Linked DNA regions of Homo sapiens. The protein of the gene in region 1 purifies or fractionates together with the protein of each later gene. This does not show direct contact. Each region holds a gene or a part of one and is shown on either strand. Other genes may lie near its edges.

What was found.
Region 2: the proteins of KIF12 (region 1) and CLPX purify together in Homo sapiens (affinity purification with mass spectrometry, with the first as the bait; one large-scale study listed by BioGRID). This does not show direct contact.

The regions. Positions count from the first base shown.
Region 1 is NC_000009.12:114,096,452-114,101,058, reverse strand, and holds the start of KIF12 (kinesin-like protein KIF12), read left to right. Parts: upstream 1-1,766; 5' UTR 1,767-1,782; coding exon 1,783-1,808; exon of another isoform or gene 1,809-1,889; coding exon 1,890-1,955; exon of another isoform or gene 1,956-2,045; coding exon 2,046-2,124; intron 2,125-2,597; exon of another isoform or gene 2,598-2,629; coding exon 2,630-2,757; intron 2,758-2,868; coding exon 2,869-2,944; intron 2,945-3,317; coding exon 3,318-3,452; intron 3,453-3,622; coding exon 3,623-3,758; intron 3,759-4,580; coding exon 4,581-4,607.
Region 2 is NC_000015.10:65,164,718-65,168,524, reverse strand, and holds part of CLPX (ATP-dependent clpX-like chaperone, mitochondrial precursor), read left to right. Parts: intron 1-1,739; coding exon 1,740-1,894; intron 1,895-3,807. UniProt on the Homo sapiens protein: ATP-dependent chaperone that functions as an unfoldase.

The DNA.
Region 1 (4,607 bases):
TGGGTTTACTCCTGACAAAAGCAACTTGCCATAGCAAGCAGCATCAGGATGTACAGCTCATAGTTCTGGGTTTAAACTCTCAGTTCTGCCATTTGTTGTTTTCTCCTTAGATAACTTTCCCTGCCTTTCGCTGTTTAGTTCAGTTTTTTTTCCTCTGAAAAACAGGGATAGTAATTTTTGTCTTATCCACCTCAAGGACTCAAAAAATAGATTAAGGAACTTCAGAGTTGAAAGGGAACTTAGAGATCATCTAGGAATTTTTATTTTTGTTTTTAGGTAATTATTTACAACTTTCACTTTCAATGACACATCTCATTGAAATCTCAGAACAACTATGTCAAATAGGAGAGAAGTCATTAATCTCTTTTTACAGGAAGGAAACAAGAGAAGCCAAGACTGTGGCAAGTTAGTGGCAGAGCTGGGGGCAGTGGTTATTAGTTCTACAGAACTTTCCCTGTGGCCCCTGCTAGAGGGTCCTATAACCAAAAGGTCAAATGGCTCTTTCTTATACATCTCCATTGCCTGGGGAGCTCACTGCCATCCAAGACAGCCCATTCTCCAGCAGGGTGGCTTTGATAGTTGGCTGTAATTTGTGGTGGTATAGAATGTGTCACATTGAGAAAAAGTGATTTTTAGGGCTTTCACCCTAATGTGTGTTTGGGGGCCGGAGAGTTTGCAGAAATATTCAGAGAACATACAAAGACAGCCAGAATGACAATAATAATAACAATGCCAACCTGATGGTGTCACATCCCTGTTTATAACCCTTCAATGGCTTCCTGGTTCCCTGAAGAGTGAGTCCAGACTCCTTGATGTGCCCACCATAAGCTAGATCCAGCCTCAAACTACCTCTCCATGCCACACTCATCTCCCCACCCCACCCTGGCCATCCTGACTCCTGTTTGCTTTGCCTGGAATACCCTCACCTCCTCCCCACCCCCACTGGCTCCTACAGGCCTCTGTACTCCCCCTAAAGGCCCTACACGCTGCTGGGTTGTACTTATCCATCTCCCCAGACACACTGTGAGCTGGGAAGGGTCAGGGGCTGCATGGGGTTCCTCTGCCCTGGTGCCCAGCATGGAGACTGGTACAGAATAAGTGATTGCCCCATCCCTGCACATTCACAGACATCTCTGCTGTTCTCATAAGCCAGACCAGGAGAGGGTTAAACAATCATGCTGGCCTAGGATTAACTTTGGCATTAGAGAGGCAGGTGCCCCAGTGTTTTACCAGATGCTTGGAAACCTGTTCTCAGGTCAGCTCAGAGATTCAATCCAGCCAGGTCGTCCCTAGAGCTGACTGAGACCTGTGCCACTCCTTGGGCCCTGAGCTGAGCTGCTGGGGGTGGGAGTGGGGGGTATGTGGAGAGGGTGGGAAAAGCTTGGTCCTGTGCAGGCTAGCTCTGTGGCCTTGGTTGAGTCCTTCCTATCTGCTTAGGTATCCCCAACTGGGCACAAAGGAGGCCGGTCTGGGTGGTCCCACGGGTTCCTCTTGTGAGGACTGGCCAAGAGCAAGGGATCCTCAGACTCCAGAACCCCCTAGCTAGGGGTCCCCTAGCTTGGGAGAGACTTTCTCCACCGCAGGGGTGAGGAAGGGTAAATCTTTAACGAGCTAGCCCTGGGCAGCTGGAGTCTTTCCGGATGGATGGCTGCCTGGGATGGGGGATGGGGTGGGAATGCAAGATGTGTGTAGACAGTCCCAGTGTTGTGGAGAAGGGAGGGTATTGGTGGGGGGTAAATAAAGGAGACGCGGGCGGAGCTAACTCCGTGTGCAGAGCAGGACATGGAAGAACGCGGGTCACCCGACGGGTAAGCAGATCTTCAGACAGGTTCGAGGAGTCCTGAACAGCCGCTAGGTGCAGGTATGATAAGTCGCATTGCTGCCCACAGGGATCTCGCGCGGAGCCTGGAGCAAGGGCCAGAGGGGCCGGAAACGCCCATCCAGGTGGTGCTCAGGTGGGTATAAATTGGCTAGGAGGCACCTGGGCGAGACAAGGATCGAGGAAGACATCAGGATGTACCATCTGCCCTTCTGTCGGACCCCAGGGTACGTCCCATGAGCGCGGCCGAGCTGCGTCGAGGGCAGCAGAGCGTGCTGCACTGCTCAGGGACCCGGACTCTGCAGGTGAGGAACCCCTCTCTCTATCTCCCCAATAAAAAATCCCGGGGACGCCAGATCCCTTCCCCCAGGCAACTTTGCCCTAGGCCCCGCGCTCCCCCGGAGTGGTCCTCTCCCAGGTGCCCCGCCCTCCCCAGAGTGCCCCTCCCTTCCAGGATGCCCAGCCCTCCGCCAGGGTGCGCCGCGCCAACCCCTGCGAGTGCCCCGCCCCTTCTGAGTGCCCGCCCACCCAAGGTGCCCGCCCCCCCCAGAATGCCCCGCCCCTCCAGGGTGTCCTACCCTCCCCAGAATGCCCCGGCCCTAGTGAGTGTCCCCCACCCCACCCCCAACCCAGGGTGCTCGCCCACCGAGTGCCTCACCGAGCGCCCTACCCTTCTCCAGGGTGCCCCGCCCTCCTCCAGAGTGCCCCGCCCTCCTCCCGCGTGCCCCGCCCTCCTCCACGGTGCCCCGCCCCTCCAGGGTGCCCCGCCCTCCTCCAGAGTGCCCCGCTCCTCCGCCCCACCCGCGCCAGGTGAGTCCTCCAGGCGGGGGTCCAGAAGTGGCGTTCCGCTTCGGTGCGGTGCTAGACGCGGCGCGCACGCAGGAGGACGTGTTCCGGGCGTGCGGCGTGCGGCGCCTGGGGGAGCTGGCGCTGCGCGGGTGAGTGAAGCTTCGCCTCCGCTCCGCGCCGGGCCTGGCGGGGCCCCGAAGCACCCCCAGCCCCCACCCCGGGTAGCCGCCGGAGTCCAGCCACGCCCTTGCCGCCCGCAGTTTCTCCTGCACTGTTTTCACCTTTGGCCAGACGGGCTCTGGGAAGACCTACACCCTGACTGGACCCCCTCCCCAGGTGAGCGAGCGCCGGCGGCGCCCCCGCGGGGCGGGGCTGGGTGGGCTGGAAGCCCTGGGGAGCCGCAGGCGGCGCAGACTCCCAGAGGGAAGGGGCTGGGACGACGCCGCCTGACCCGCTTGTTTGCAGACGAGGACGCTGAGGACCAAAGAGAAGGGACTTGCCCAATTTGGAGCATTTGGGCTTCAACTTTGGCCCCTTCCTAGCTCTCAGTTTTCTCATCTGTAAAATGGAAGTGACAGTACCGACTATGAATTAAATGAGCCATTGTTTGGGAACTTGGCACGTTTCCCGGCGCACGGTATCATACATGCGCTACAGAGGGTAGTTATTACTGTGGAGATGACGATGGCTCAGCTGGTTTTGCCCCTAGGGGGAGGGGGTGCCTGTACCCCCCAGCCTGGCTGGCATCATGCAGAGGACCTTCGCCTGGCTGTTGGACCGCGTGCAGCACCTGGGTGCCCCTGTCACCCTTCGCGCCTCTTATCTGGAGATCTACAATGAGCAGGTAAGGGAATGAGAGGAATAGAAAGACAGCCCATGAGGAAACGGAGCGCTTCTTTCCAGGGAGCCTGGATCAAAGGACAGAAGAGGCGGTGGGGACTGTTGTCAGTAAGATCTGGGGATGGGTGGACTCAGAAAGATCCCCTTCCCTCACCCTCCTCCCTCCCCTCCCAGGTTCGGGACTTGCTGAGCCTGGGGTCTCCCCGGCCCCTCCCTGTTCGCTGGAACAAGACTCGGGGCTTCTATGTGGAGCAGCTGCGGGTGGTGGAATTTGGGAGTCTGGAGGCCCTGATGGAACTTTTGCAAACGGGTGTGTGCTGACAGCGGGGAGTTTTGCGGGTAGGGGTGCCCATTCCTCAGTTGTTCACTGAGTGTGGACTTGGGGCCCAGACTGCAGCTGCAGCTTCAGAAATGATTCCTGGGGGAGGTGGGGAAGGACCAGTAAACCACAATTCAAAGGCATGGCCCAAGGGCCTCCCCGCACTGCCAACAAGGCCTGCTAATTCTGCCTTCCAAACTCCTTTCACACCCTCTCCTCTCTAGCCCAGGGCCTCGGCCTCCGCCAGGACTCATTCTTGCTCCCTGGTGGTCTCTGCACCTCAAGGCTCTCCCCTGCCCATCCATTCTCCTCTATGCTGCAAACCCCATCTCTCTTTGCCTCCAGACCCTCCACCCTTCCAGGGCCCTGAGGATCAAGGTCATACCTCTTAGCCTAGCCTAAAGGCCCTTTCAGCCTCATTCTTTTTTTTAAATCAAGTATTTATTGGGCACCCCTCCTTTGGCAGGCACTGGAGATGCTGACTGTGGATTCTGGCCCCAGCACTGTGCCACACCTCTCAGCTGATCTCCTGCCTCAGTTTCTCCCCTTCCTTTCACGAAGCAGTGGGAGAGATGTTTATAAAATGCAAATCTGACTGTCATTCTTCTGCTCAGTTTTCTCTATCCTCCATCCACCCATCTCTGCTAGAGCAGGGCCCAACATCCCATCGTTCCCTGAACAACACCCACTCTGTTGCCTCCCTGCCTTTGCATGAGGCTGACCCTTCCGCCAGGATTCCTTTGCTCCTTTTTCTTCATTGATGATGACCTGTTCTTCCTACCAGGTCCAGCTCCTGATGTTTTTCCCTTCCAGGTCTCAGCCGTCGAAGGAACTCAGCCC
Region 2 (3,807 bases), on another chromosome or scaffold:
GAGAACATGCGGTGTTTGGTTTTCTGTCCTTGCGATAGTTTGCTCAGAATGATGGTTTCTAGCTTCATCCATGTCCCTACAAAGGACATGAACTCATCACTGTGTATCCACAAATTTTTTTTTTTTTTTTTTTTTTTTTTTGAGACAGAGTCTCACTTTGTCGCCCAGGCTGGAGTGCAGTGGTGCAATCTCATCTCACTGCAAGCTCCACCTCCCGGGTTCATACCATTCTCCTGCCTCAGCCTCCCGAGCAGCTGGGACTACAGGCGCCCACCACCACACCCAGCTAATTTTTCTATTTTTAGTAGAGACAGGGTTTTACCGTGTTAGCCAGGTCTCGATCTCCTGACCTCGTGATCTGTCCCCCTCGGCCTCCCAAAGTGCTGGGATTACAGGCCTGAGCCACCATGCCTGGCCAAAAATTTTTAAAAGAAAAAAGAGACTCTTTTTATCCTCACTTTAAACTACCTTTGTATTGCTTTCAAAGTCTGCATGATTATCTTTAAATCCAATCAGTATGACTGAGAAAGCAGTATTTTGTTAGTTTCTTAGTGGTTTTTTGATCAGAGAAATAGGAACTAGTGGAGTAAAGATAAAATAAGAAAGATATGAAATAATTATATATATATTTTTTTCTGAGATGGAGTCTTGCTCTATCTCCCAGGCTGGAGTGCAATGGCGCAATCTCAGCTCACTGCAACCTCCACCTCCTGGGTTCAAGCGATTCTCCTGCCTCAGCCTCCCGAGTAGCTGGGATTACAGGTGTCTGCCACCACGCCCAGCTAATTTTTGTATTTTTTTTTTTTTTTTTAGTAGAGACGGGGTTTCATCATGTTGGCCAGGCTGGTTTCTAACTCCTGACCTCAGGTGATCCACCTGCCTCAGTCTCCCAAAGTGCTGGGATTACAGGCATGAGCCAACACGCCCGAAAAATGCTCATGGGTTTAAGAGAATGTAAAGAATATACATTTTTTACATTTTTAGGAATTAAAATAGATTTATCTCTTTCAACTTTTGTATATGTTTGACATTTTTTATAATATTGGAAAAATATATGAATCTTGTATTTTACTTTTTTAGTTTGTTCATTCAAGTATTTCAATAAAATAGATGATTACTCCATATTCTCAAAGAGGTTTTAAATCTTTTTTAGTGGGCCGGGTGCGGTGGCTCACGCCTGTAAATCCCAGCACTTTGGGAGGCGGAGACGGGCAGATAACAAGGTGAAGAGATCAAGACCATCCTGCCCAATATAGTGAAATCCTGTCTCTTCTAAAAATACAAAAATTAGCTGGGCATGGTGGTGCACCCCTGTAATCCCAGCTACTCAGGAGACTGAGGCAGGAGAATTGCTTGAACCCAGGAGGCAGAGGTTGCAGTGAGCCGAGATCACACCACTGCACTCCAGCCTGGCAACAGAGCGAGACTCCGTCTCCCAAAGAAAAAAAAAAATCTTTTTTAGTGAATGGAAAGTTGGAAAAATTTCACGCAATCTTTTCTTTTAAAGAAGTATATCACAAAATGAAAGGACCTAATAGAAATGAGCAAAAGGTAGTTGACTGATCTATCTTTGTAGTATACTTGCTATATAAATGAGGCTGTTTGTGTGGCAAGTAGATTGAACAGCAAGTCTACTTTTTGTCAGGTGCGTAGCTTTCATTTACAGTGGAGTCTTTAAGGTTAAACACTATTGGAATTATTTTTTATTTCCCTCTACTTATGTCTGTTTTCTTTTACAGCATCCACCCGTTTTGTCAAGTGTGAAAAGTGTCATCATTTTTTTGTTGTGCTATCTGAAGCAGACTCAAAGAAAAGCATAATTAAAGAACCTGAATCAGCAGCAGAAGCTGTAAAATTGGCATTCCAACAGAAACCACCACCTCCCCCTAAGAAGGTATAAGTCTTAAGCTCAGTCTTACAAGTATTTTATCTTGAAAACATTCCATTGCTTCCCTCTCCCAAGTTTACACTGAATCCTAATACTAGTATATAAACAAGTATTATAGGTTCATAATATGGACCATATGTGGCTAAATTGTTATTGCCTTTTGGAATTTAAATATGGGGTCTGTTGCTTTTTCCCATGTTATGATTACTGTATTCAGTGGCAGTGAAATATAGCTAGATAATTATTAAAATGTTAACTTGTTAATACCAAGTTAATCTGAAATAATATCTACAATAGAGCAAGCAACTTCTGATTTATTTTTGTTCATATGGACCCTTAAATAACACCAGCCTAGGCTGGTCCACTTGACTAGCCTTAAAAAAAAAAGCCTGCAATTATCTCCCTTAAATTGGTCTATTTTATGGTAAAACAGCCTTCAGTCTAATAATGTAAGTAAGTAGTTTTTTCATAGCCAGTGTGCCGGGCTGCTCCGTATAGCACTGTGGCTTTGGTAGTGTGGACTCTTTAGAAGTCTCAGGCAGAGTATGATTTGGTCCTGTGAGATGTAACAGAATGTACCACCAGCTCCATTGGGTATTTGGTGTGTGCTTTTTGAGAACTGGGAACCCTTGTACCCTGGCTATGTGCCTTCTGTTCTGGCTGTGTCTCAGATGTTTGCACACTTAGATTATTTCTCACTGCCTCAGTGTATCTTTCTTCTACTGTGTTTAGATATCAGTGCATTTGTCTCTACTTCCAAATGTGCTGTGACAGATTTAATGTCATTGGTATAATTTGTAAGGAATAAAGATGTTTAAAACTATAATAAAATGTATATGGTCAACAACTAAAGAATTTGTCATTAAAAATGGAAAATATATTGGGCTTTATATTCTATACGAATTTGTGTAGACTTTAGACATGTGAGTTAAAATTCCAGGCAGTTTGGCCGGGTGCGGTGGTTTGGTTCACTCCTGTAATCCCAGCACTTTGGGAGGCCGAGGCGGGCGGATCATGAGGTCAGGAGATCGAGACCATCCTGGCTAACATGGTGAAACCCCGTCTCTACTAAAAAAATACAAAAAATTAGCCCGGCGTGGTGGCGGGTGCCTTTAGTCCTGGCTACTCGGGAGGCTGAGGCAGGAGAATGGCGTGAACCCGGGAGGCGGAGCTTGCAGTGAGCCAAGATCACGCCACTGCACTCCAGCCTGGGTGAAAGAGCGAGACTCCGTCTCAAAAAAAAAAAAAAAAAAAAAAAAAATCCAGGCAGTTTAACTAATTTCAGGAGTTTTTGAATTATTTATTTTTTAATCAGGGTTTCACTCTGTTGCCCAGGCTGGAGTGCAGTGGCACACTCATGGTTCACTGCAGCCTTAACCTCCCTGGGCTCAAGTGATCCTCCCACTTCAGCCTCCACAGTAGCTGGGACTGCAGGTGTCTACCACTATGCCCAGCTAATTTCTGTAGAGACAGGGTTTTGCCATGTTGTCCAGGCTGGTCTGCACCTCCTGGGCTCAAGTGATCCATCCGCCTCAGCCTCCCAAAGTGCAGGGATTACAGCCGTGAGCCACCAAGCCCGGCAGGAGTTGGTTAATATTAATTCACCAACCATTTCATTTCTATTCACTAAAAACTTAAAAAATTTACCCCAGGTTCCAAGCTGTTGGCAATAACCAACTGTAGAATAGAGCTTTAGCTACTATTAAGAATAAAGTTTTTAGGGCTGAGCTTGGTGGCTCATGCCTGTAATCCCAGCACTTTGGGAAGCCAAGGCAGGAAGATTGCTTGAGCCCCAGGAGTTCAAGACCAGCCTTGGCGACACAGTGAGACCCTGTATCAAAAAAAGAAAAAAATATATTTTTAGAAAATAAAAAAAAATAAGAATACAGTTTTTAGAGTCTCAGATAAATGAGTAGCTT